Linked DNA regions of Homo sapiens. The protein of the gene in region 4 interacts with the protein of the main gene of each other region in a biochemical or structural test. Each region holds a gene or a part of one and is shown on either strand. Other genes may lie near its edges. The genes, in order: SMAD2, ERBB2, KDR and SH2D2A.

The links.
Region 1: the proteins of SH2D2A (region 4) and SMAD2 form a complex in vitro, tested with the Homo sapiens proteins (one study listed by BioGRID).
Region 2: the proteins of SH2D2A (region 4) and ERBB2 form a complex in vitro, tested with the Homo sapiens proteins (2 studies listed by BioGRID and IntAct, with this or other methods).
Region 3: the proteins of SH2D2A (region 4) and KDR interact in a test that uses a peptide from one of them, tested with the Homo sapiens proteins (one study listed by BioGRID).

What each region holds. Positions count from the first base shown.
Region 1 is NC_000018.10:47,808,650-47,815,698, forward strand, and holds the end of SMAD2 (mothers against decapentaplegic homolog 2), read right to left. Parts: 3' UTR 308-7,049; downstream 1-307. UniProt on the Homo sapiens protein: Receptor-regulated SMAD (R-SMAD) that is an intracellular signal transducer and transcriptional modulator activated by TGF-beta (transforming growth factor) and activin type 1 receptor kinases.
Region 2 is NC_000017.11:39,710,050-39,717,098, reverse strand, and holds part of ERBB2 (receptor tyrosine-protein kinase erbB-2 isoform a precursor), read right to left. Parts: intron 7,014-7,049; coding exon 6,898-7,013; intron 6,760-6,897; coding exon 6,618-6,759; intron 5,172-6,617; coding exon 5,052-5,171; intron 4,778-5,051; coding exon 4,651-4,777; intron 3,947-4,650; coding exon of another isoform or gene 3,830-3,946; intron 1,814-3,829; coding exon 1,740-1,813; intron 1,654-1,739; coding exon 1,563-1,653; intron 1,381-1,562; coding exon of another isoform or gene 1,360-1,380; coding exon 1,160-1,359; intron 829-1,159; coding exon of another isoform or gene 799-828; coding exon 666-798; intron 585-665; coding exon 494-584; intron 33-493; coding exon of another isoform or gene 1-32. UniProt on the Homo sapiens protein: Protein tyrosine kinase that is part of several cell surface receptor complexes, but that apparently needs a coreceptor for ligand binding. Essential component of a neuregulin-receptor complex, although neuregulins do not interact with it alone.
Region 3 is NC_000004.12:55,077,962-55,080,625, forward strand, and holds the end of KDR (vascular endothelial growth factor receptor 2 precursor), read right to left. Parts: intron 2,203-2,664; coding exon 1,980-2,202; 3' UTR 520-1,979; downstream 1-519. UniProt on the Homo sapiens protein: Tyrosine-protein kinase that acts as a cell-surface receptor for VEGFA, VEGFC and VEGFD. Plays an essential role in the regulation of angiogenesis, vascular development, vascular permeability, and embryonic hematopoiesis.
Region 4 is NC_000001.11:156,813,849-156,821,224, forward strand, and holds the start of SH2D2A (SH2 domain-containing protein 2A), read right to left. Parts: upstream 3,001-7,376; 5' UTR 2,861-3,000; coding exon 2,827-2,860; intron 2,610-2,826; exon of another isoform or gene 2,265-2,609; coding exon of another isoform or gene 2,247-2,264; coding exon 2,158-2,246; intron 1,991-2,157; coding exon of another isoform or gene 1,982-1,990; exon of another isoform or gene 1,902-1,981; intron 1,374-1,901; coding exon 1,189-1,373; intron 477-1,188; coding exon of another isoform or gene 447-476; coding exon 357-446; intron 169-356; coding exon 1-168. UniProt on the Homo sapiens protein: Could be a T-cell-specific adapter protein involved in the control of T-cell activation. May play a role in the CD4-p56-LCK-dependent signal transduction pathway. Could also play an important role in normal and pathological angiogenesis.

The DNA.
Region 1 (7,049 bases), on a different chromosome or scaffold from region 4:
CAGCCTTGGCCTCCCAAAGTGCTAGGATTACAGGCATGGGCCACAATGCCTGGCCTGAAAGAGTTAAATAAGTTTGATAATACACTGAGTTAATGAGGATATGTGGCAAGAAGGCATTCTTATTCATAACTAGTGATGGTATACACTGATACAAATTTAGGCGTCCTGTGGTACCTGGCGCATTGGCTACATCTAAGACCACCTAGGTATGTCAGTGAGCTTGGCTCTGCTCAAAATATTTGACTTCTCTTTTAAAAACTGTTATCAGAATTAATTTATGAACCACAAAGAAAAGCAGTCTCGTTGCTTCATTTCCACCTTTATTCTTTATTACCAACACCAAACAGCACCTCAGGTGGTAGTCAACTAAGTAATTCCTGGCTGTTTTCTACAGCGGACCTAGTGAAAAACCAATGGTGCCTAAGGCGGTGCTGAAGGAAGAATTCTCAGCAGCAGTTCTCAACAACAGATCACAGAAACAAGGCTGTCCTCCTCGGGCATCTCTGGGGAGGTGGAGGTCAAAGGGATGGAGACGTTCTGTGCCGTTACGGAAAGAGGCAGTCCCTGTACTTGGGGGTCAGATAGGAAGCATTCCAGTTTCTCTAGTTTCTTCTTTCCCCTTCCTCTTTATTCAGTTCCTTGAAGCATATGGCAGATGCCAGCTGGTGGTAAAGGAATGACAGTTTTCCAGGCCAGAGCAAGCAAGGTGAGGGGTGGGGATGGTATTCTATATCCCTCCAATCTGGAACTGGAACCAGGTAGAGATAAGGATAACCTGTGGGGGAATTGTGAAGTAGACTAGCCAGTGTAGATGTGTGCACTTATGCAGAGTGGCCTACCTGCCCCCACCCCACCTCCTTCCTAGTGAGCTGAGGAGGACTTGGAACCAGAAAGACAATGAAGCACTCAGGCCTGTGCCAAGTCTTCCAGACTCCTCTTCCCTCCAGGTCGGAGCTCAAGAACCGGGCAGTGATTCCCATCTTATAAGAGCTTTGTTGGATGACAGCCAATGTTCAGCCTTGTCTGTCTGTAATTCTCTTTAAATCTTCTGAGGTTTCCCCATTACTAAGCTCCCGCCCCCTGACCCTCTCTTTGCCTGAAGATGAAGCTTTCAGGCAGATGTTATTTTTTCCCACTATGTACCTGTTACTTGGGTGGAGATTTCTTTTTAATTCTCCAACCAAAAAGAACTACTCATTTCCTTTTGCCTCATGGCCTGAGACATACTTGGATACAGAGTGGGGTGGACTCACTGAGAAACCTTTTAAAGAGAAGATGCAGTATCATTTAAATGCACAATAGACTTCTAGCCCATTTGCCAAAAGCCATCCCAAAGAGGGCTGATATCGTCTGTTAAATGCTGTAATTACAGAGTTGAAACACATACTCTTTCAGACATGAAGTCAGAGGGCTTCTGCCATCCTGCCTGCCTAGACGAGCTGATCTGAGTACAATCACAGAGGAGCACTGGAAGATACCACAGCCCAGGTAGCCAGCCTGGGAAATGGTTTCTCATACTGCAAAGAAGTCATCTGACCCAGAAATACTAAGAACCAAGTGAATTCCAAATTGCACACACGAGAAGAAAGTAAGAGGTCGCCAACCAAGTCATTTCCCTGTCCCCAAACCTCCTGAGCCTTCTCCTTGCCCCCTTCCCACCTCTTCCCTACCACTTACCTCTCTCCCTCCTCCCACTGCACACTCACCATCCCCACTGTGCCTCTGCTCAGGTTATGCTGTCAAAGTCAAATGCTATCCACCCTCCCTGCCCACCTTAATTGCCCCCACTGGAACCCTGCAGCAGTTTATGCTACAGACTGGGCTTTCAATCACCTGATTCCACACTGCCTTATAATTGGCATTAGTGGCACCTGTGACAGCAAATCAAGGTCCTCCCAAATAAAAAGTATCTTTTTCCTACAGTTTCCACAAGGCTAGGCACAAAATTGGTGCTTAAAAAGACTGATTGACCAACTAACATTTGACTTGGAAATATAAATAAAGCCCAGGCATGGTGGCTCATGCCTGTAATCCCAACACGTTGGGAGGCTGAGGTGGGAGGATCACTTGGGCCCAGGAGTTTAAGACCAGGCTGGGCAACACAGCAAGATCCTGTCTCTGTTAAAAAAGAAGAAAGGAAATGTAAATAAAATAGTCCCATGCATCAGCAACAGCCGCCACAGCTGAACTGTCACACTTTTGCACCATCTTCTGAATTCAGCATCGTCTTCCTTAGACTGTGGGATGCAAATCGTGGTTTTCTTATGCCAAAACAACTTCCGTGCCTGTCTTGTACTCTGAAGACAGTAATTATTAGCCTCGAAGTTTTCTGTTGGCATGAGCACTACGATCCCCCAAGGAGTGGAATGCAGTAGCTACAGTTTCAACTGACACACATCTGACTCTATCCCCCAAGCCCCAAATGTGCAATAAAGAAAGTAAAAATTAGTTGCTGTCCACTTGGCTTCCAGGAACAGGGTGAAAACTTCAGATCTTATGGCCTGCCACACTGGAAGGCCTACTCTGATTTGAAAGAAGCTGGCTGGGCACGGTGGCTCACGCCTGTAATCCCAGCACTTTGGGAGGCTGAGGCGGGTGGATCACAAGGTCAGGAGATTGAGACCATCCTGGCTAACACGGTGAAACCCTGTCTCCACTAAAAATACAAAAATTAGCCAGGCGTGGCGGCGTGCACCTATAGTCCCAGCTGCTGGGGAGGCTGAGGGAGGAGAATGGTGTGAACCCAGGAGGCGGAGCTTGCAGTGAGCTGAGATTGTGCCACTGCACTCCAGCCTGGGCGACAGAGCGAGACCTCGTCTCAAAAAAAAAAAAAAAAAAAAGAAAAAGAAATAAGGTAATTCTGAAATCCACAGCAATGCTTCAGTGCTCCTAAGGGGCCGCTTTACTTCTGTAAGCTGGGTTGGGTGAATTGGTCCTCAACCATGCATCTCCTCCAGACCCCATCCTCACTCCAAACATACACATATTCCAAAGTTCATCAGAACCTTTGATCACAAAACAGACAATGAGAGCAGCTGATCAAAATGGAACCCTATGAAAGGCAAAGAGCAGGGTGGAGGAAACATACCATGCATTTCAAGGAAAACAACTTAAAAATTAATGAGCTCTCAGGAAAAGATGGCATCACAAGAGAATCAACCAACCTAGATCTTCTGAGCACCTGTCAGTCGATCAAGAAGCATTTATTGCATGCCTACCATATATAAAGCACTGCTGGAAATGTTGAAGCAGACACAAAGATGTAGCATATATAAAAAGGAAATGTTTGGGAAAAAGTGATTTTAGCCTCTGACCTCAAGGTGCTTGTATTAGTCTGTTCTCACACTGCTATAAAGAAATACCTGAGACTGGGTAATTTATAAAGGAAAGAGGTTTAATTGACTCAACAGTTCCACATGGCTGGTGATATAGTTTGGCTGTGTCCCCACCCAAATCTCATCTTGAATTGGAGCTCCCATAATTCCCCATATTATGTGAGGGACCCAGTGAGAGGTAACTGAATCATGGGGGTGGGTCTTTCCCGTGCTGCTCTTGTAATAGTGAATAAGTCTCACGAGATCTGATGGTTTTATAAAGGGGAGTTCCCCTACACAAGCTCTCTCGCCTGATGCCATGTAAGATGTGTCTTGCTCCCCCTTCACCTTCTGCCATAATTGTGAGGCCTCCCCAGCCATGTAAAACTGTGAGTCAATTAAACCTCTTTTATAAATTACCCAGTCTCCGGTATCTCTTTATTAGCCGCGTGAGATCAGACTAATACAGCTGGGGAGGCCTCAGGAAACTTACAATTATGGCAGAAGGGGAAGCAGGCACCTTCTTCACAAGGTGGCAGAAGAGAGTGTGAGTGTGTGAAAGTACAGGAAAAACTACCATTTATAAAACCATCAGATCCTGTGAGAATTCACTATCATGAGAACAGCATGGGAGAACCACCCCCATAATACAATTACTTCCTTCCCTCAACATGTAGGGATTACAATTCAAGATGAGATTTGGGTGGGGATGGAGACCCAAACCATATCAGAGCTCATAACTTAAGTGGTGGTAATCAAATCTAAAGCACATTTTATAGCACACACACTCGCTATTCCAAGGTTCCTTTCATGAGTGTCCATGTCACTGTCTCCCCAGGACCCCCACAGGAGCCTTGCACAGGTATCTCATGAACATCCAAGTACCACTTCTTGTAGGAAGCAGGGGTAACTTTCAATAGGGGTGGTTAAGGAAGACTCTGCAGAGAGGATGGAATTTAAACTGGGTTCTGGCCAGGCAGGGTGACTCACACCTGTAATCCCAGCAGTTTGGGAGACCAAGGCAGGTGGATCACCTGAGGTCAGGAGTTTGAGACCAGCCTGGCCAACATAGTGAAACCCTGTCTCTACCAAAAATACAAAAATTAGCCAGGTGTGGTGGCGGGCACCTGCAATCCCAGCTACTCAAGAGGCTGAGGCAGAAGAATTGCTTGAATCCAGGAGGCAGAGGTTGCAGTGAGTCAAGACTGTGCCATTGCACTCCAGCCTGAGTGATGAAACTTGGTCTCAAAAATAACTAAATAACTAAATAAAATAAACTGGGTCCTTATTTTTAGAAAAGGATCTCACTTTGTCATCCAGGCTAGAGTGCAGTAGCACAAACATGGCTCATGAAGCCTCGACTTCCTGGGCTCAAGCAATCCTCCCACCTCAGCCTCTCAAGTAGCTGGGACTACAGGTGCCTGCCACCATGCCCAGCTAATTTTTTTTTTTTTTTTTTTTGAGATGGAGTCTTGCAATGTCACCCAGGCTGGAGTGCAGTGGCGCAATCTCGGCTCACTGCAACCTCTGCCTCCCGGGTTCATGCGATTCTCCTGCCTCAGCCTCCCGAGTAGCTGGGATTACAGGCACACACCACCACACCCGGCTAATTTTCTGCATTTTTAGTACAGATGGGGTTTCACTATGTTGGCCAGACTGGTCTCAAACTCGTGACCTCATGATCCACCTGCCTCGGCCTCCCAAAGTGCTGGGATTACAGGCATGAGCCACTGTACCCGGCCCCACAATTTTTTTTTTTTTTTTTTTTTGGAGAGATGGGATCTTGCTATGTTGATCAGGCTGGAAACCTGGGTCTTGAATAATGGATACATTTGGAAGTGCAGAGCAAAGGCCAGAGAGATATCCAAGCCAGAGAGATATCCAAGGCAGAACAAAGCTCATAATTTAACAAGAAAGGTAGGCATAGATAGGCCTAATTATGATGAATGCTCTCTTACCAGTATAAACAAATTACAAAGGGAGTGATGAGAAGAGGCAATGAAGTTTGGGGAGGGAAAGAAAAGTCTGTGGTGGAGGTGATAACCTGAACTTGGCTTTGAGGAATAAAGAGTTTTATATCAGGGCATCAAGAGAAGGATATTCAAGGTACTTAGGACCAGAACAGGCAAAGGCACTGAAGCAAGAGAGTCTGGGGCAAGAATGTCTCTATTGGGTCAAGACTTTGACAATATTAAAGATTCCATTTTCTTCATATATGCCCCCCTGCTGTCTTTCCAATAAAGGTAAGCCCTGAAGCCTGACAGTCACAGGAAAGGAGAGGGTGTGTACTAGAGTAACAGCACAGTTGCTACTCAGCTGTGAATCTCAGAGCCTGCCTTTATTATCTTGATTATTCTTTGGCATCTCTAGGAAGATGATAAGTAGTCTTCAAAGTCAGACTTTACTGAGAATGAGAAGGGAGTTCTACATGCTAAGAGCTCCATTCACATACTAAAAGCAAAGCTTGGACAACTGAACATGAGTTTTACTCCTAACCATGGATAAGAGAAACTGAGAATACGATGTGAGAAGAGTCTCTTCATTAGGCAGGAGTGGAATGACTCCCAGGGCAGGGAGAGATTGATTGAGATTGCAATTGCCCTGTTGGGAAATAAACGGAAACTTCAGGATGGGTATGCGAGTCTTGGAGCAGCAGGGTTAGTCAACTACTTTCCTGGCATAGCCTGGGGAAGACTGCAAGCCACTCAAAAAAGTCCTACTCATGACTTAGAGGCTTACCCAGTATGGCACAGGAGCACTAGCTCAGCATTGGTGGAAGGAGGTGTCTAGTCAGTCTGAGAAAATGTTGGCTTCCCAAAGCTTGAGCAAGATGTTCAGTACATCCCAAAGTTCCAACATCATCCCTTCCCACCCACTCCAAAGCCCAGCAGATTAACAGTCCCATAGTTGGGACATGGAAGCTATTAAGGTAGAGACCTTGAGACCAAAGGCAATGACAGAGTTGTGGTCAGGAGCAGGGCATGACAGCAGTGAACAAAAGCCAGGGACCCACTTACATTACCCAGTAGACTCAGTGACATCCAGCAAAGATGGCAGGATGAGCACCAGCAGCAGGACCGTCAAGGACCTCAGCACATACATTAGAGAAACTCTTTCCTGTGTCACCTGGAGATGACTGTTCTCACCCACTAGATGCCATCATGAGGAAGAAGCTAGGAAGAACCTTTGAAAAGCTGAGCATTTATCCAAAGAGATGGTTTTAAGCCTGAGATAGGCTATTTGAATCGAAAGAGAACGTTATCTTTGATTGGCAAGTTTAAGGCCATCCACCTCGTCCCACACCTTCCCAAAACCAGATGGGATGCATGAGAAATTGATGTGAAATGAAGGAACTGTAACTTCTTTTCTGCATGATCTGAGTTTTAATGTGTGGGAGCTGGGAAGAGGGAAGAACATTGATAGAAAATCTGAAAGCCCACAGGGAATGTGGTCTAAAGCAGAGGTTTAAGTCCTGGCTGATAATCATTTTGGGTTTTCTGAAAATGCAGATCCCAGTGCTCCAATTCCAGACCTGCTAAAGCAGAATCTCACAATTGAGGCCAGGGAACCTACATTTTAGAAGCTCTCCTTCTGACTCCAATTTGGAAACCATTTATTTAACCACTAGTACAAAAACTGGCCTTGAATAAGACATCACTTCCTCCAAGTCTGAGTACAGCACGCAAGGGCAACTGCAGCAAATGGAGGGGTGATTTAGTAAGGAGGGGGTGAAAC
Region 2 (7,049 bases), on a different chromosome or scaffold from region 4:
ATGGGAGGCACCCAGAGAGGAAAACGCATTACCTAAGGTGTAACAGCGAGTAACAACAGTCACTGCTCTGTAGAAAGCCTTTCCCGTGCTTCACTGTGCCAAGCCCTGTTTAATTTCATTCTTGCCACACCCCAGCAAGGTAGGTATTATTACAATACCCATTTTAGGAATAAAAAACCAAGGTTGGAAGCAGGAGCTGGGTCTGAATCCAGGTAGTCTGACGCCTGAGCCCACAGGGCTCACCACCCTAGCACAGCCACAGTCACAGCCACCAACACAGACCTCCTTAGAACCTTTTCATAGTCTGAAGGGCCCCAGTGTCCCCCAGGCCCCTTTTCTGCCACTCTGTTGCTGTTCAGGTCTGAGCGCTGAGCCCTCTCCAGGGATATTTTACCAGATAGCACACCCTACTGCATCTCGCCATCCTGCCAAGTCCCTGGCAATCCCCCTCGCTGCCCCCCTCCACCCAGCTCTGAGCCCGCCAGCAGCTCACCGGTCCAAAACAGGTCACTGAGCCATTCTGGGGCTGACACTCAGGGTGGCACGGCAAACAGTGCCTGGCATTCACATACTCCCTGGGGAGCCTGAGAGAAGGGACAGTGGTGAGGGGGTCTGAGAGGAGCCCCATGCACCCCTCCAGCCACCCTCTCCTCCGCCCCTCATACCCCTGCAGTACTCGGCATTCCTCCACGCACTCCTGGCCCCGAAGGAACTGGCTGCAGTTGACACACTGGGTGGGCCCTGGACCCCAGCAGTGCCCTCGGGCGCACAGCTGGTGGCAGGCCAGGCCCTCGCCCACTGCAGTGAGGAGGAAGGGACCGCAGGGGACTTTTAGGGGAGGCCCCAGGTCCAAGTGAACCAGGGAACTGGCTGTGGGCATGGCTGTGGGCTGGAGGGGTGGGGACAGGTGGGGCCGATGTAGGGAGAGGAAGAGTTCTGAGATTTCAGAAACAGAGGGGGAGGGAAGGATGCCAAGGCAGGTAGGACCCAGCTAGAGAAGCCATGCCAAGAGGCCAAGCCAGCCAGAGCTGTGCTGAGTCAAGAAGGGTGCACAGAGACGGGCAGTCTGCACAAGTCCAAGAACGCTGCTGCCAGGGCCCCCTGGGCACTGCTGTGTGCTGGCAGATGGGGAGTGCGCACACTGGGCTCCCTGTCTTACCACACTCGTCCTCTGGCCGGTTGGCAGTGTGGAGCAGAGCTTGGTGCGGGTTCCGAAAGAGCTGGTCCCAGGGCACCGTGTGCACGAAGCAGAGGTGGGTGTTATGGTGGATGAGGGCCAGTCCACTGCCCAGTTCCCTCAGTGAGCGCAGCCCCAGCCAGCTGATGCCCAGCCCTTGCAGGGTCAGCGAGTAGGCGCCACTATGGGAGAAAGGTGGGCACCTTACCACGGACCCCTTCCCGGTCAGCAAAGGCTATTCTCATCTTCCTCCATCCCCAGCACACTCTGCAGACTTTCATGGAAAGGTTACTGCTACAGGAGTACTCCCTCAGGCCCAAAGCTTCCCACAGGGACTCCTCCCTGGGACTCCTCCCCATCAGGCCCCCTCTTTCTCAGTGCTCACTTGTGCAGAATTCGTCCCCGGATTACTTGCAGGTTCTGGAAGACGCTGAGGTCAGGCAGGCTGTCCGGCCATGCTGAGATGTATAGGTAACCTGCAGGCAGAGGGTGAGATTAAAGGAGTGGGGACAGGACAAGGACTCCCAGCCCCTGCAGAACAGGATGCAGAGACAGAGCCCACCTGTGATCTCTTCCAGAGTCTCAAACACTTGGAGCTGCTCTGGCTGGAGCGGGGCAGTGTTGGAGGCTGGGTCCCTGGAGGGGTCAGGAGAGGAGTCAGCAGGGCCAGGAACAGGGTGGACATCACTCCCAGCACTGGCCATGCCAGCCACTCCCCACCATGAATGCCTTCACTCAAACCCTTTGCCCATCGAGCCCAGCTGTTCCCATCCTGGGCTTCAAAGCCCAGGCCTTAGTTCGGCAACATCTATCAAAACAGTATTTATATCCTTTGATCTAGAAATCTTATTTCTGCCTGGGCTCAGTGGCTCACGCCTGTAATCCCAGCACTTTGGGAGGCCGAGGCGGGCGGATCACGAAGTCAAGAGATGGAGACCATCCTGGCCAACATGGTGAAACCCCATCTCTACTACAAATACAAAAATTAGCTGGGTGTGGTGCCGCGCGCCTATAGTCCCAGTTACTCGAGAGGCTGAGGCAGGAGAATCACTTGAACCCGGGAGGCAGAGGTTGCAGTGAGCCGAGATCACACTACTGCACACCAGCCTGGCGATAAAGCGAGACTCTGTCTCAAAAAAAAAAAAAAAAGAAAAGAAATCTTATTTCTAGGAATGTGGCCTAGGGAGACACTGGCCCATGTTCCCAGAGCCACACACAAAGTGGAACTGTTTGTAAGAGTGAAAATGGAACATGATCTAAATGTCTATTAGTAAATAGGGGAGCTGTTAAATAAAACCCCGAGCCACCCAGCCACATAATAAAAACCAACATTTAGGAGCACCTAGTATCTGCCAGGCACTGTTCTAAGAGCTTTACAAATATTAACTCATTCAAACTTTATAATCATCTGGCCAGGCATGGTGGTATAACCATCTTATGAAGTTGGGACTGTTCTTGCCCCCACTTTACAGATGAAGAAACTGAGGCACAGCACAAGGGTCACATGCCTAGTAAGTGGTAGAGCCGGGTTTCAAACCCAGGCAGTCTGGCTCCCAAGTCTGGGCTCTTAGCTGCCTCTCCTTGCCGCCACCTGCTCTGCAGCTATTGAAAGAACAAGGCAGTTCAATGGGAACTGTCATGACCGGCTCTCAAAGCAAGGTGCAGACAGTGCTCCCTATATGTTCCCATTTACAGAAACCAACCTCCCCACCAAAACGACGAAAACCACACTTCACTGTGTGTGTGTCTACAGATGCATAAACGGTCTAGGTGAACACACACACTGTTAACCATGGCCCCCTCTGGAAAGGGGAGTGGAGGTAAAGGAAGTGTGAAAGGGAATTTTTTTTTTTTTTTTTTTTTTGAGACAGGGTCTCATTCTGTCACCCAGGCTGGAGTACAGTGACATGATTTCAACCCACTGCAACCTCCACCTCCCAGGCTCAGGTGATTCTCCCACCTCAGTCTCCCTAGTAGCTGAGACTACAGGTGCGTACCACCATGCCCGGCTAATTTTTTGTGTTTTTTTGTAGAGATGGGATCTCACTATGTTGCCCACGCTGTTCTTGAATTCCTGGGCTCAAGCAATCTTCCTGCTTCAGCCTCCCAAAGTGCTGGGATTACAGGTGTGCACCACGGCGCCTGACCCTTTTTTTTTTTTTTCTTTTTGAGACAGGGTCTCACTCTGTCGCCCAGGCTGGAGTGCAATAGCGAAATCTCAGCTCACTACAACCTCCACCTCCCGAGTTCATGCAATTCTCCTGCCTCAGCCTCCCAAGTAGCTGGGATGATAGGCGCATGCCAGGAAGCCTGGCTAATTTTTTATATTTTTTAGTAGAGATGGGGTTTCACCATGTTGGCCAGGCTGGTCTTGAACTCCTGACCTCAAGTGATCTGCCTGCCTCGGCCTCCCAAAGTGCTGGGATTACAGGCGTGAGCCACCGTGCCTGGCCCCAATTCATTTCTTATTGAAGTATAACTTATATACAATAAAATGCACCGGGTGTGGTGGCTCATGCCTGTAATCCCAGCACTTTGGGAGGCTGAGGTGGGCGGATCACGACGTCAAGAGATCGAGACCATCCTTGCCAACATGGTGAAACCCCATCTCTATTAAAAATACAAAAATTAGCTGGGCATGGTGGCACACACCTGTAGTCCCAGCTACTCAGGAGACTGAGGCAGGAGAATTGCTTGAATCCAGGAGGCAGAGGTTGCAGTGAGCCAAGATCGTACCACTGCACTCCAGCCTGCTGACAGAGTGAGACTCTATCTCAAAAAATAAAATGAAATAAATAAAATGCACAGACTCTTATCACACAGTTTGATGAGTTTTGACAAATGGATTCGCTCATGTATCCACTACCCCAATCACTATACAGAGCATTTCTATTACCCCAGAAATGTCCTTGTGTGCCTCCCTTTTGAAGCCCCCCACCCTGGGGCAACCACCGTTCTGATCTCTCCCACCACAGAGTGGTTTTTTCGGTTCAGAGCCTCACATAAAGGGGATCAGACAGTATGGAATCTTGTCTCTGGCTTCTTTTGCTCAATGTAATGTTTCTGAGATTCATTTATGTTGTATCGGTAGTTCATTTCCTTTGGTTGCTAAGTAGAACTTCACCAAATGGATACACTGCCACTTGTTTATTCCTTCACCTAGTGATGCACATTTGAGTTATTTCCAATTTGGGGATATTTTGAATAAAGCTGCTATGAACTCAAAGGGAATTTTACTTTATCTAGATGGTCTGACCTCCATACAAGTCCTTGTTCACGGATAGCATGTCATTTACAAAAATAATCACCCCCACCCACCAAAGGCCCTGCTCCTCTGGTCTCCCATCTGCTTTCTTTGCATTCTTGATCCCCCCACTTCTGTCTCCTGCCATCCCCAAGAGATGCTGCCACATCTGGATCCTCAGGACTCTGTCTGCCCTGACACTGTCTCAGGTCATCGTGCCCACTCTTACCCATCAAAGCTCTCCGGCAGAAATGCCAGGCTCCCAAAGATCTTCTTGCAGCCAGCAAACTCCTGGATATTGGCACTGGTAACTGCCCTCACCTCTCGCAAGTGCTCCATGCCCAGACCATAGCACACTGAGGAGGTGGGGGTGGGTGGGGAAGGGGCCGTCTCAGCCTTCATACCGGGACAGGTCAACAGCCACATGAGCATCAGGGTCCGGGCCCCTCCCCACACTGACAGGGGATATAGGGACACTTGTAGGGCTGAGGGGGGCCAGGGGTAGAGAGTAGAAGGCAGAGACTAGGTCCCAAGAGGGTCTGAGGAAGGATAGGACAGGGTGGGCTGGGCCAGGCTGCATGCGCAGAGGGACAGGAACTGCAGCTGGCCTCGGGGGCAGTGAGTGGGTACCTCGGGCACAGGGCTTGCTGCACTTCTCACACCGCTGTGTTCCATCCTCTGCTGTCACCTCTTGGTTGTGCAGGGGGCAGACGAGGGTGCAGGATCCCACGTCCGTAGAAAGGTAGTTGTCTAAGGAGATCAGGAACATGTAGCCACATACCCTGGCCCTTCGTGCACCACCATGAGCAGCATTACCGTGCCCAGGCACAAGAAGAATAATATCAACCAATACTTAAATGCCCTACCACGCATCAGCACCTGACATCCATTTACCCCTCACAACAACCAGACGGGATCAGCACTGTGAGATTCCCATTTTGCAAAAAGGGAGACCAAAGCAGAGAGTTCTGTAAATTATTCAAGGTCATTGTGCTAGTGAGTGGAGGAGCGAGGATTTGAACCCAAATGGTCTGGCTCTACATTTTGTCCTCTCCCTAACACAGTCAGCCAGGATCTGAAGGCCCACTCCTGTTCCTGTGAGAGGAGGAAAGAGGTTCCCCAGGTCTGAGCCCAGTCCATAAACGCCCATCAGTAAATAGGTGATCTGTTAAATAAAACTGAGCTAGGCCAGGCACGATGGCTCATGCCTGTAATCCCAGCACTTTGGGAGACCAAGGCGGGTGGATCACTTGAGGTCAGGAGTTCGAGACCAGCTTGGCCAACATAGTGAAACTCCGTCTCTACTAAAAATACAAAAATTACCCAGCCATGGTGGTGCATGCCTGTAGTTCCACCTACTCAAGAGTCTGAGGCACAAGAATTGCTTGAATGCGGAAGGCAGAGGTTGCAGTGAGCCAAAATTGCACCACTGCACTCCAGCCTGGGCAATGGAGCGAGACTCTGCCAAAAAAAAAAAAGTCCGGGTGCAGTGGCTCACGCCTGTAATCCCAGCACTTTCAGAGGCCGAGGCAGGTGGATCGCCTGAAGTCAGGAGTTCGAGACCAGTCTGGCCAACGTGGTGAAACCCTGTCTCTACTAAAAATACAAAATTTAGCGAGGCATGGTGGTGGGCGCCTGTAATCCCAGCTACTCAGGAGGCTGAGACACGAGAATAGCACGAACCTGGGAGGCGGAGGTTGCAGTGAGCCGAGATCGCGCCACTGCGATAGAGCTAACTAAATTCGGTCTCAAAAACAAAACGAAAGGTAAAACTGACCTCACCAGGCTATAGAATAAAAGCTAACATTTAGGAGCACTTAGTACATACCAGGCACCGTTCTAAGAGCTTTACAAATATTAACTCTTTCAAATGTTATAACCATCTTATGCAGTTGGGACTATTCTTGCCCCCATTTTACTGATGAGGAAACTGAGGCACAGCAAGAGGGTCACGTGCCTACTAATTGATAGAGCTGGGTTTCAAACCCAGGCAGTCTGGCTCCCAAGTCTGGGCTCTTAGCTGCCTCTCCTTACTGCCACCTGCTCCACAGCTGTTGAAAGAACAAGGCAGCTCGGCAGGAACTGTCATGACCAGCTCTCAAAGCAAGATGCAGACAGTGCTCCCCATATGCTCCCATTTACAGAAACAAACCTCCCCACCAAAATGAGAAAACTGTGTTTCTCCCTGGCACTCACAGGGACAGGCAGTCACACAGCTGGCGCCGAATGTATACCGGCCCTCGGGATTGGGCATGGACTCAAACGTGTCTGTGTTGTAGGTGACCAGGGCTGGGCAGTGCAGCTCACAGATGCCACTGTGGTTGAAGTGGAGGCAGGCCTGGGGGGACAGGTGGCTGGCTTTCACTGTGCTGTTTTGCCCTGGTGTGCCAGGGGCAATAGGGCAGTACCAGGCAGGGTGCCCACCCCTTGCATCCTGGGGGGTAGAGCACATTGGGCACAAAGCAGAGGCACATACCAGGCAGTCAGAGTGCTTGGGGCCCGTGCAGCCGGCAGCACACTGCTCATGGCAGCAGTCAGTGGGCAGTGGCCCCTTGCAGCGGGCACAGCCACCGGCACAGACAGTGCGCGTCACTGTTGGGCAAAGGGCAGGATGAGGGCTGAGTGGCG
Region 3 (2,664 bases), on a different chromosome or scaffold from region 4:
GGGGCTGGGAGGAGGTGTGGGTGTTGGGGGGTGTATGCGTGGCGTGTGTGTGTGTGTGTGTGTGTGTGTGTGTGTGTGTGTGAATTCTTTGTAATGAAGAAGAAGAGGGAAGAAGCAGTTAAACTTTAAACCAGACATACTTATCCTCAAAATAGTTGTGGTGATATTATACCCTCATACTTTGTACTACAAATACATTTATTGGTTTGTAAAATATATAATCAGTTTATGAAAATATCCCTTATAAGAAGAGTAAGAAAACCAGTAAAAATGTAAAACAACCACATGGAAATTATGTCTGATTCCTTCTTCTCCATTTTATTTTATTTTTACCTTTTTTCTTTGAGATGGAATCTGACCATGTTGGCCAGACTGGTCTTGAACTCCTGGGCTCAAGCGATCCTCCCACCTTGGCCCCCCAAAGTGCTGGGTTTTTAGGTGTCGGCCACTGTGCCCAGCCACCCCCTCTTCCATTTTAGAAATGATGGGTACAGTAATGCAACCTTGCAAAGGGATTCCTTCAAGTTTTTCAATGTTCTTTAATAAAATGACATCAATTGCTGAAAGCATTATGACCTTTGTTATGCTACATAATACTGATACAAAATGTGAATAGTACAAAGTTCATTATATATAAGGCTTTAATATATTACATTTGTTTCTACATAAACAGACTATAAATATATGTGCCATAGCATGTCTTATAGTCATTGTTCCCAGCATTTCACACTATGGTACCAAACAAAAAACACATTTTCTTTTTTGAAAAAAAGGACAGAACAAGGGCAAAAATCAGTAGAAATAGCTCTATATGTTAAAAGTCTAAATAATACAATAGATGTTATAATTTGGGCTATAAAATAATTTTGAAGTCTGGCTAATAATCATTCAGAGAGTGAACAAACCCAATCAGGTTTACTGGAGTAGAGGCCAAATAACTAAAATACTGATGGGTTGCGGGGTGAGAGTGGGTTGGGGACAGGGGGAAGAACAAAAGGGTAAAATCCTTCCTGAAACTTTGACACCACACACAGCTTCACATTGAACCTCCCGCATTCAGTCTCAGACATATCACATCAGGACAGATATGAGGGTATTCATTCCAGAAGAAACCAGAAGCTGGTTTGTGCAGTCAGAACTCTTCAACACGGCAGGGAGCCTTGAGCTGAATGTCCTTTCTTTGTGGTATTCTGAATAAAGGATCAGCCTGGGAGACAAGGAGCCAGAGCTGCATCATTTCCTTCCTGGGGCTTGGCCAGGAGACACGTAACGGTCTGGAAGGAACTCTCATTAGGAGTCAGAAACAGCACAACGAACTCTACTTTAGCCCAACTCGAAGAACACGCAACCTTCTAAAACCAGAAACCCCGTCTGAACCCTTTACATTTCAGAACAGACCCCATGCCCACCTCCACCAGAGCAAACACAATGCATTTGCAGGCTCCAGTACTCTCCAAAGCAAGGTAACGTTAGTCTTCCTTTCTATCAATCCGAATTCCACACTTAAGGCTTGGCTTGGGACCCACGTCCTAAACAAAGCCTCTTGGATAGACTCAGCCCTGCAAATCCTTCCCATCTTCAACACCTCGAACACTTACATTGCCTGGTTTATCTTCTAGTTTTACAGAAGTGTCAGCTCCCCAGGTACTGCTACTTCTTTGAGGATGGGGCCATTTCTTGAACGTCTTTGTTCTAAACCCATGGTGAGACCCGCAGCAGGGGGCATGATAAATGCTTTTTAAATGAATGAAAAAGAGGATCAGGTCAACACTGGGAGAAGACACAGACACATTCTTGGGTCACAAGCCTCTTCCAGGATATGCCTAGAAGACTGGCTCCCTGCAGTCCGAGGTCCTTTTTCTGTTGTCGAAATGAAAATCAAATGCGGCTACTTCCTGCTGGTGGAAAGAACAACACTTGAAAATCTGAGCAGCACCTCTCATGTGATGTCCAGGAGTTGGGGGTGTGGATGCTTCCTTTTAAACAGGAGGAGAGCTCAGTGTGGTCCCCGAGTCAGGCTGGAGAATCTGGGCTGTGCTACCGGTTTGCACTCCAATCTCTATCAGCTTTAAAAGTTCTGCTTCCTCACTGGAGTACACGGTGGTGTCTGTGTCATCGGAGTGATATCCGGACTGGTAGCCGCTTGTCTGGTTTGAGCCTTCAGATGCCACAGACTCCCTGCTTTTGCTGGGCACCATTCCACTGCAGAAGAAATGGCAAACAAAGGAGTTGGCAGAGAGAAGACAATTCTTTTGCTTTTTACCCTCACCCCATTCCCAACTCCATATGGCTGCCATCTCCCTGGAGACCGCAGCCCCGTATCTCTCCCAGTTGTTAATCAGCATAGCAGGTTTACAGGGACAAGGTCTATTTTCAGGTACTCGCATGAATTAGTAGTTGCAGATAAGTCCTCTTACTCAGGTCCAAGTCTTTCAAGCCTCAAATGAGATGAAAGGCAGTTCTCTCGAGTTATGCAAAGGCCCCAACTGATGGAACATGTTTATGGCCTCGCAGATTGACAAATTTGTATACAGTGACAGGCGCCAAAGGGCCACTTGCATGATATTCAAGGAAATTGGGATGTTCTTAAATTTCACTTGTGCTTTTCCTATTGTGGCAATTTGGGAATTACGGGGCATGTGTATGGTTGTAATAAAGCTCTTG
Region 4 (7,376 bases):
TGTCGGGCGAGGGGCTCGGTGAGCGTCTCCCCGTAGGGGCTGAGCGGGTGCGCGGTGTAGTGCAGCAGCAGGTCCTGCAGCCGCGCGTGGGCGCTGTCCTCGCCCAGCACCACGTGGCGCCCGTCCCTGAGCTGGGCCAGCAGGAAGTGGCGGCAGCAAGTCCGGCTCCTGGAGGGCGCCGTTAGGGATCAGACTATCTCCCGCTCCTCGGCCAGGGTCACCAGCGAGAGGCGTGATCCCCACCTTCAGCAGCCCGGGGAATGAGCTAAGAGCCCGGCTCCTCACGGGATCAGACCCAAGCCCCGCCCCTCCCGAGCCCCGCCTTGTGTCGCCCGGCGCGGGGCCTCGCCCCTCACCTGTAAGTCAGCACGAAGGTCACCGCGCTCTCGCTGAACCGCACCAAGTAGCACCCCTGAGGCTTGGGCTCCAGCAGCCTCTCTGCCTCCCTGTGGGTGACGGAGAGAGGGGGCCGAACCCTGCTCTGACACTTCCAGCCTCGCCTCTGTCTCCCCGGCTCTCACGAGGAACCCCTACCCCCAAGCAAGCATGCTGGAGCGGCTAGAGAAAGGCTAGGGCGGAGATGGGGAGAGAGAGCACGTGGGCGCTGCTCTCCCGCTGCAGGGATTAGGCGTGGACAGGGGCCAGGGGTCCCATTCAGGAGACCCCCGCATCCTCCCCTGGCCTCATCCTGAAAGGGCAGCCTGCAGGGGCTGCTACTGCAGCTACAGGGATGGGAAAGTAGTTGGACTTCCAGATTTCAGAAGTCAAAGCTGAACTGAGGAGGTGAACAAAGAGTTAGGGAGAAATGAGGCTGAGAAATGGAGGAGGGAGATTCTGCAAGGGTGGAAGAAGAGAGGGCTGGGAGATAAAGATGGAGTAAGCCTGGAGGGAGAGAGAGGTGGAAAATACCAGCATTCGAGGCCTTAGGGACAGGAGGATAATGGGGCCTAGAGAGGGGAAGCTGAGGTACACAGAGGGCTGGACTGGAGCCTCTCCAATGATCTCCCCTGGAGAGATGCCTCAGTGAAAGGCTAGGAAAACTCTGGGAGTGGGAGCCTGGAGTGGGCGCCTCCATCTACTCCAGACTGGTAGAAGTGGGAGCCTTCATCTATTCCTGGCAGGTGGCAGGACCCAGACCCAGGACTTGCCCTGCCCCTGTCTGGGCCAATTTCCTCCTCCATGACTCACCTCCGGGTGATGAAGCCATGGAACCAGGCAGGGGCTGCCCCGTGCTGCAGGAGCCAGTGGGCCTGGGTCTTCTGGAACCAAGCCCGGGTCTCGGCCTGCAGGAACAGGCTTCCTTCTCCAGGCACCTCCTCTGCCCTCTCAGCATTCCCTGTGTTGGAGGCAGCCTCCGGGGCCTGGGGAGATGCCTGGATCAGGGAAGAGTTCAAGGAGGGGGAAGCAGCATGATGAGTGGGCCTTCTCCTGACTTTGATCCACCTGCCACCTTCTTTTCCTCATACCCAGCCTCTCCTGTCTATTTTAGGGTACAATTGCCCAGAAAGTCCTTCCTAAAGTCTAACTTAAATCCCTTCTTCAGCTCCAGCTGTTCTGGCTTCCAGAGACTCTCCTTCCTTTGCCCTCTGGGTCCTGAGGGCTTTTAATCCAGCAGCAGTGAGCTGTCACACTGTGCTCTAGGAGGGGCGGGAAAGGCAGCACAGCCTTCCAGATGGACAGAGTCATTCCCTGGCCTGGAGGATGAAGAAACATGATGCAGGAAGTCACCCTAGAGGCCAGAATGAGGGAGGGCTTACTTCATAATATGAGGGACTGACCTAGTTCGCAGGGAAAATTATTGACTGGGCAGGAGAGAAGGACTGAGACGGGAATGTGGAATGCACTGGGCAAATGGTCACTGACACAGAGTGCAGATGCCTGCTTCTGGGACTCAATGCACTGCACCCTGGTCATCTGCGGACTCAGCCTGAGCTTCCAGAGGGCCTAGGAGCAGTAAGGGAGTGAGTGGGCAACTCGGCGCATGAAGGAGGTACTCCTCATTTTCGTTCTCTCTCTCTGTGCCCCAGCCCGTTGGCAGACCCGGATCATTCCTGCCTTCTCTTGGAGTGGCCTTTGTCCATCTGCAAGTCCTTCCCCATGGGAGGGTGGGAGAGATGAGGGAGCTGCACCACGCTGCCGCCCCAGGTTTCCACTCACCGCAGTGTAGCCCAGGTTCTGGCAGCTCCTGCGGGTCATGTCTGTGATCTGGAAGGTGCTGAAGGTTGGGATGGGGGCTTCGTGACTCCCTGTGAGCACAAAGAGGGCTGCCGGGGTTTCTCAGAGAGGAACTATGTCTGTCTCTGCCTCCCACCCCTCCTCCCAGGCTCAGGGGATCTGGAGGGCTGGGACAGTCTTAACGACAGGAAAAACGCAGAAGGGCAGCAGGGGAGTTTCTCAGGCATGAGGTTAAGTAGCCAAGGCGGCATGGGGGGCTAATGCTGCCAGAGGAGGTTGTGAGGGACACCAGGTGCCTAGAAGGAGAGGCTGGGAGTCAGGCTGGCCTTCGGATGGTCAGGGAGGCAGATCACTTCAGGGCAGGCCCTTCTTCTGGTCCAGGATCTTCTGCCTCCTTCTCCCTTCATCCTCCTGCTCCCTCCTCTCTCCTCTCTGAGAAGCCCTCAACAAACCCTGTCACCTTTATCCTCAGGGATGAGTGGGCATGGAGCCCCAGGCAGGGTTGTGGTCACCCTGCCAATCAGCTTTGCCAGCTCTGGCTTAGGGTGGGGCCCCTCATCCCTGAAGTGGGAGCTCAAGCCCAGGAGGGAGGGCAGGGGGATGGGGGTCTTTGTGCCCCCTCCCACCCATATCCTTCAACTTCACACTTACCTTGGGGACATATCTGGGCCAGGGGGAACTCCATGAGGGCAGCCTCACAAGGGATCCCAGAGCAGGGTGTGTGTATGTGTTCCGGAAAGGTGTGCACACTCAGCAACTCATCATCTCTCCTCTCACCCTGGCCCCGGGGGCAGGAAATGTCGCCTTACCCACAGCCTTAGTTCTGGCGAGGACTCACGTCATGGAAAGCCTTAAGACGATTGTCCCACCCCCGGAAGCCACGCAGCTGTAGATAGCGGTGGTATAGCGGTGGGGGGTATCTGTGTCACTCTGTGTTTAGGTGTTAGGAAGCCCTTACTGCTGCCTGACCTTCATCCCTCCAGATTCTTTCTCTGCCCCCTCACCCCAAACTAGAACTTCCCTTTCTCTCTCTCTCTCTCTCTCTCTCTCTCATCTCTCTTGGCTTCTATTTCTTTCTCTCTGGAAAATCTCCCACTCTGCCTCTTGGCCTGTTCTGAGCAGTGGGAATGGGGATGTCAACCTCAAGGATAAGCCACACAAGGTGCTTATGGATCATGCTTTGAGGAGACATGAGGAAGGGAGGGGGCAGGGCTGCAACAGGAAGGATGTGGGTCAGACTTCTGGAAGGACTTTTTGAGGACATGTGAAATCTATGAGTCTGGGCATGGTGGCTCATGCTTGTAATCCCAGTACTTTGGGAGGCTCAGGCGAGAGAATCGCTTGAGCCCAGGAGTTCATGATCAGCCCTGGGTAACATAGTGAGAGCCCATCACTATTTTTAAAATAATAATAATAATAGTAATAATAATAAAGAAATCTATAAGACAAGGGGTTAGAGAGGAGGGGGCCTGGCTTCCATCATTCAGCAGATAATGGAGCTGAGTTAGGGCAAAACCAGGCAATATTGGAGGAAGGAAAGAGAATTCCTCCAGCTAAGCAGGTCATCATTAGTATCAACACTATCAGCAGTTGTCATTAATAACATCAGTGTTGACATCTTTTTTTTTTTTTTTTTTGAGACAGAGTCTAGCTCTGTCACCCAGGCTGGACTGCAGTGGCACAATCTCAGCTCACTGCAACTTCCGCCTCCCAGGTTCAAGGGATTCTTGTGCCTCAGCCTCCCGAGTAGCTGGGATTACAGGCTTGTACCACCATGCCTGGCTAATTTTTGTATTTTTAGTAGAGACAGGGTTTCACCGTGTTGGCCAGGCTGGTCTTGAACTCCTGGCGTCAAGTGATCCACCCACCTCGGCCTCCCAAAGTGTTGGGATTACAGGCGTGAGCCACTGCACTGGCCAGTGTTAATGTCTTAAACTTTCAATGTGCTTAGACTTCCCACCATACCAAAGGACCAATCCCATTTCTCTCTGAATTTATCTTCACAAACTAAGAAGGGGACAGGAACATTATCCCCATTTACCAGAAGCTCAGAGGAGTGCCTTGGCCAGGGTCTTTCAGTGTCTGAGAAGTTGGTGTGAGTGCTGGGACTAGAAGGTAGACTTCCTTTCACTAATTTCACTGTGATTTAGGCCAAAGGTTCATGACTATGTGCTATGCACTGTTCTTGGTACTGAGAACCCAGAGAGGAAAAAAAAAACTTTGTTTCAAGATGTCAGATGGGGGAGATGGACTTGCCAAGACTTACTGTTTTTTAAAAAATTGTGTACTGTTTTTTTGCTTTTAAAAACATGCTCTAAATTTTTAATAATTTTTGGGGTACGGTTGGGTTTTGGCTACATGGATAAGTTACCTAGTGGTGATTTCTGAGATTTTAATGCACCTGGCACCCAAGCAGTGTACACTGTCCCCAATATGTAACCTTTTATTCCTCACCCAACCTTCCCCCCAAGTCCCCAAATTCCCTTATATCACTCTCATGCCTTTGTGTCCTCATAGCTTAGCTCCCACTAATAAGTGAGAACATACGATATTTGATTTTCCATTCCTGAGTTACTCCACTTAGAATAATGGCCTCCAGCTCCAACCAAGATACTGCAAAAGACATTATTTCGTTCTTTTTTTGGCTGAGTAGTATTCCATGATGCAGATATACCACATTTTCTTTATCCACTCATTGGTTGATGGGCACTTAGGTTGGTTTCATATCTTTGCAATTGCAAACTGTGCTGCTATAAACATGCGTGTGCATGTGTCTTTTTAATAGAATGACTTCTTTTCCTTTGAATAGACACCCAGTAGTGGGATTGCTGGAAATAATGGTATTTCTACTTTTGTTTTTTTAAGGAATCTCCATACTGTTTTTCATAGTGGTTTTACTAATTTACATTCCCACTAGCAATGTAAAACTGTTCCCTTTTCACCACATCCATGCCAACATCTATTTGTGTGTCTGTGTGTGTGTGTGTGTCCGTGTTTGAGATGAAGTCTCACTCTGTCACCCAGGCTGGAGTGCAATGGCGCTATCTCGGCTCACTGCAACCTCTGCCTCCCAGGTTCAAGTGATTCTCCTGCCTCAACCTCCCTTGTAGCTGGGACTACAGGTGAGCACCAACCATGCCTGGCTAATTTTTGTATTTTTAGTAGAAAATAATGGGGTTTCACCATGTTGGCCAGGCTGGTCTCGAACTCCTGACCTCAGGTGATCCCCCTGCCTCAGGCTCCCAAAGTGCTGGGATCACAGGCATAAGCCACCGCACCTCACCACATCTATTGTTTTTTGACTTTTTAATTATGGCCATTCTTGCAGAAATAAGGTGGTATCTCATTGTGATTTTAATTTGCATTTCCCTGATGATTGTGGTGTTGAGCATTTTTTCATATGTTTGTTGGCTGTTTGTATACTTTCTTTTGAGAAATGTCTATTCATGTCCTTTGCTCACTTTTTGATGGGATTATTATTTTTTTATTTTTATTTTTATTTTTATTATTTTTTTAGATGGAGTTTCGCTCTTGTTGCCCATGCTGGAGTGCAATGGCATAATCTCGGCTCACTGCACCTCCGCCTCTCAGGTTCAACAGATTCTCCTGCCTCAGCTTCCTGAGTAGCTGGGATTACAGGCATGCGCCACCATGCCTGGCTAATTTTGTATTTTTAGTAGAGATGGGGTTTCTCCATGTTGGTCAGGCTGGTCTGGAACTCCTGACCTCAGGTGATCCACCCGCTTTGACCTCCCAAATTGCTGGGATTACAGGCATGAGCCATCATGCCTGGCCTATTTGTTTTTTTCTTCCTGATTTGTTTGAGTTCCTTGAGATTCTGGGCACTGGGTGTTGTTGGATGCACAGCTTGAGAATGTTTTCTCCCACTCTGTGGATTGTCTGTTTACTCTGCTGATTACTTTTTTTTGCTATGCAGAAGCTTTTTAGTTTAATTAGTTCCCCATCTATTTATTTTTGTTCTTGTTGCATTTGCTTTTGGGGTCTTAGTCATGAATTCTTTGCCTAAGCCAATGTCCAGAAGAGTTTTTTGGATGTTATCTTCTAGAATTTTTATGGTTTCAGCCCTGAGATTTAAGTCTTTAATACATCTTGAGTTGATTTTTGTATAAGGAGAGAGATGGGGAACCAGTTTCATTCTTCTACATGTGGCTTGCCAGTTTACTCAGCACCATTTATTGAATAGGGTGTCCTTCCCCAATCTATTTATTTGTTTATTTTTTGAAACAGGGTCTCACTCTGTCACCAAGGCTGTAATGCAGTGGCACGATCTCGGCTCACTGCAGCCTCAACCTCCCGGGCTCAAGTGATCTTCTCACCTTAGTCTCCCAAGTAGTTGGGACTACAGGCATGCGCCACCACACATGGCTAATTTTTGTACTTTTTGTAGAGATGGGGTTTTGCCATGTTGCCCAGGCTGGTCTCGAACTCCTGGGCTCAAGCCATCTGCCTGCCTTGGCCTCCCAAAGTGCTGAGATTACAGGCGTGAGCCACCACATCCAGCCCCCCCAATGTATGTTTTTGTATGCTTTGTCAAAGATCAATTGGCTGTATGTATTTGGCTTTATTTCTGGGTTCTCTATTCTGTTCCATTGGTCTACATGCCTATTTTTATACCAGTACCATGCAGTTTTGATAACTATAGCCTTGTAGTTTAATTCGAAGTTGGATAATGTGATGCCTCCAGATTTGTTCTTTTTGCATAGTATTGCTTTGGCTATATGGGCTCTTTTTTGGTTCCATGTGAATTTTAGGATTGTTTTTTATAGTTCTGTGAAGAATGATGAAGGTATTTTGTTGGAAATTGCATTGAATCTGTAGATTGCTTTGGGCAGTATGGTCATTTTCACAATATTGATTCTTACCATCCATGAGGATGGACTGTGTTTCCATTTGTTTGTGTCATCTCTGATTTCTTTCAGCAGTGTTTTCTTTGTAGAGTTCCTTATAGAGTTTTCTTTGTAGAGTTCCTTGTAGTTTTCCTGGTAGAGATCTTTAACCTTCTTGGTTAAATATATTCCTAAGTTTTTTGTTTGTTTGTTTGTTTGTTTTTGCAGCTGTTGTAAAAGGGATTGAGTTATTGATTTGATTCTTAGGTTGGTCGTTGTTGGTGTACAGCAGCATTACTGACTTGTGTACACGGATTTTGTATCCTAAGACTTTACTGAATGTATCAGATCTAG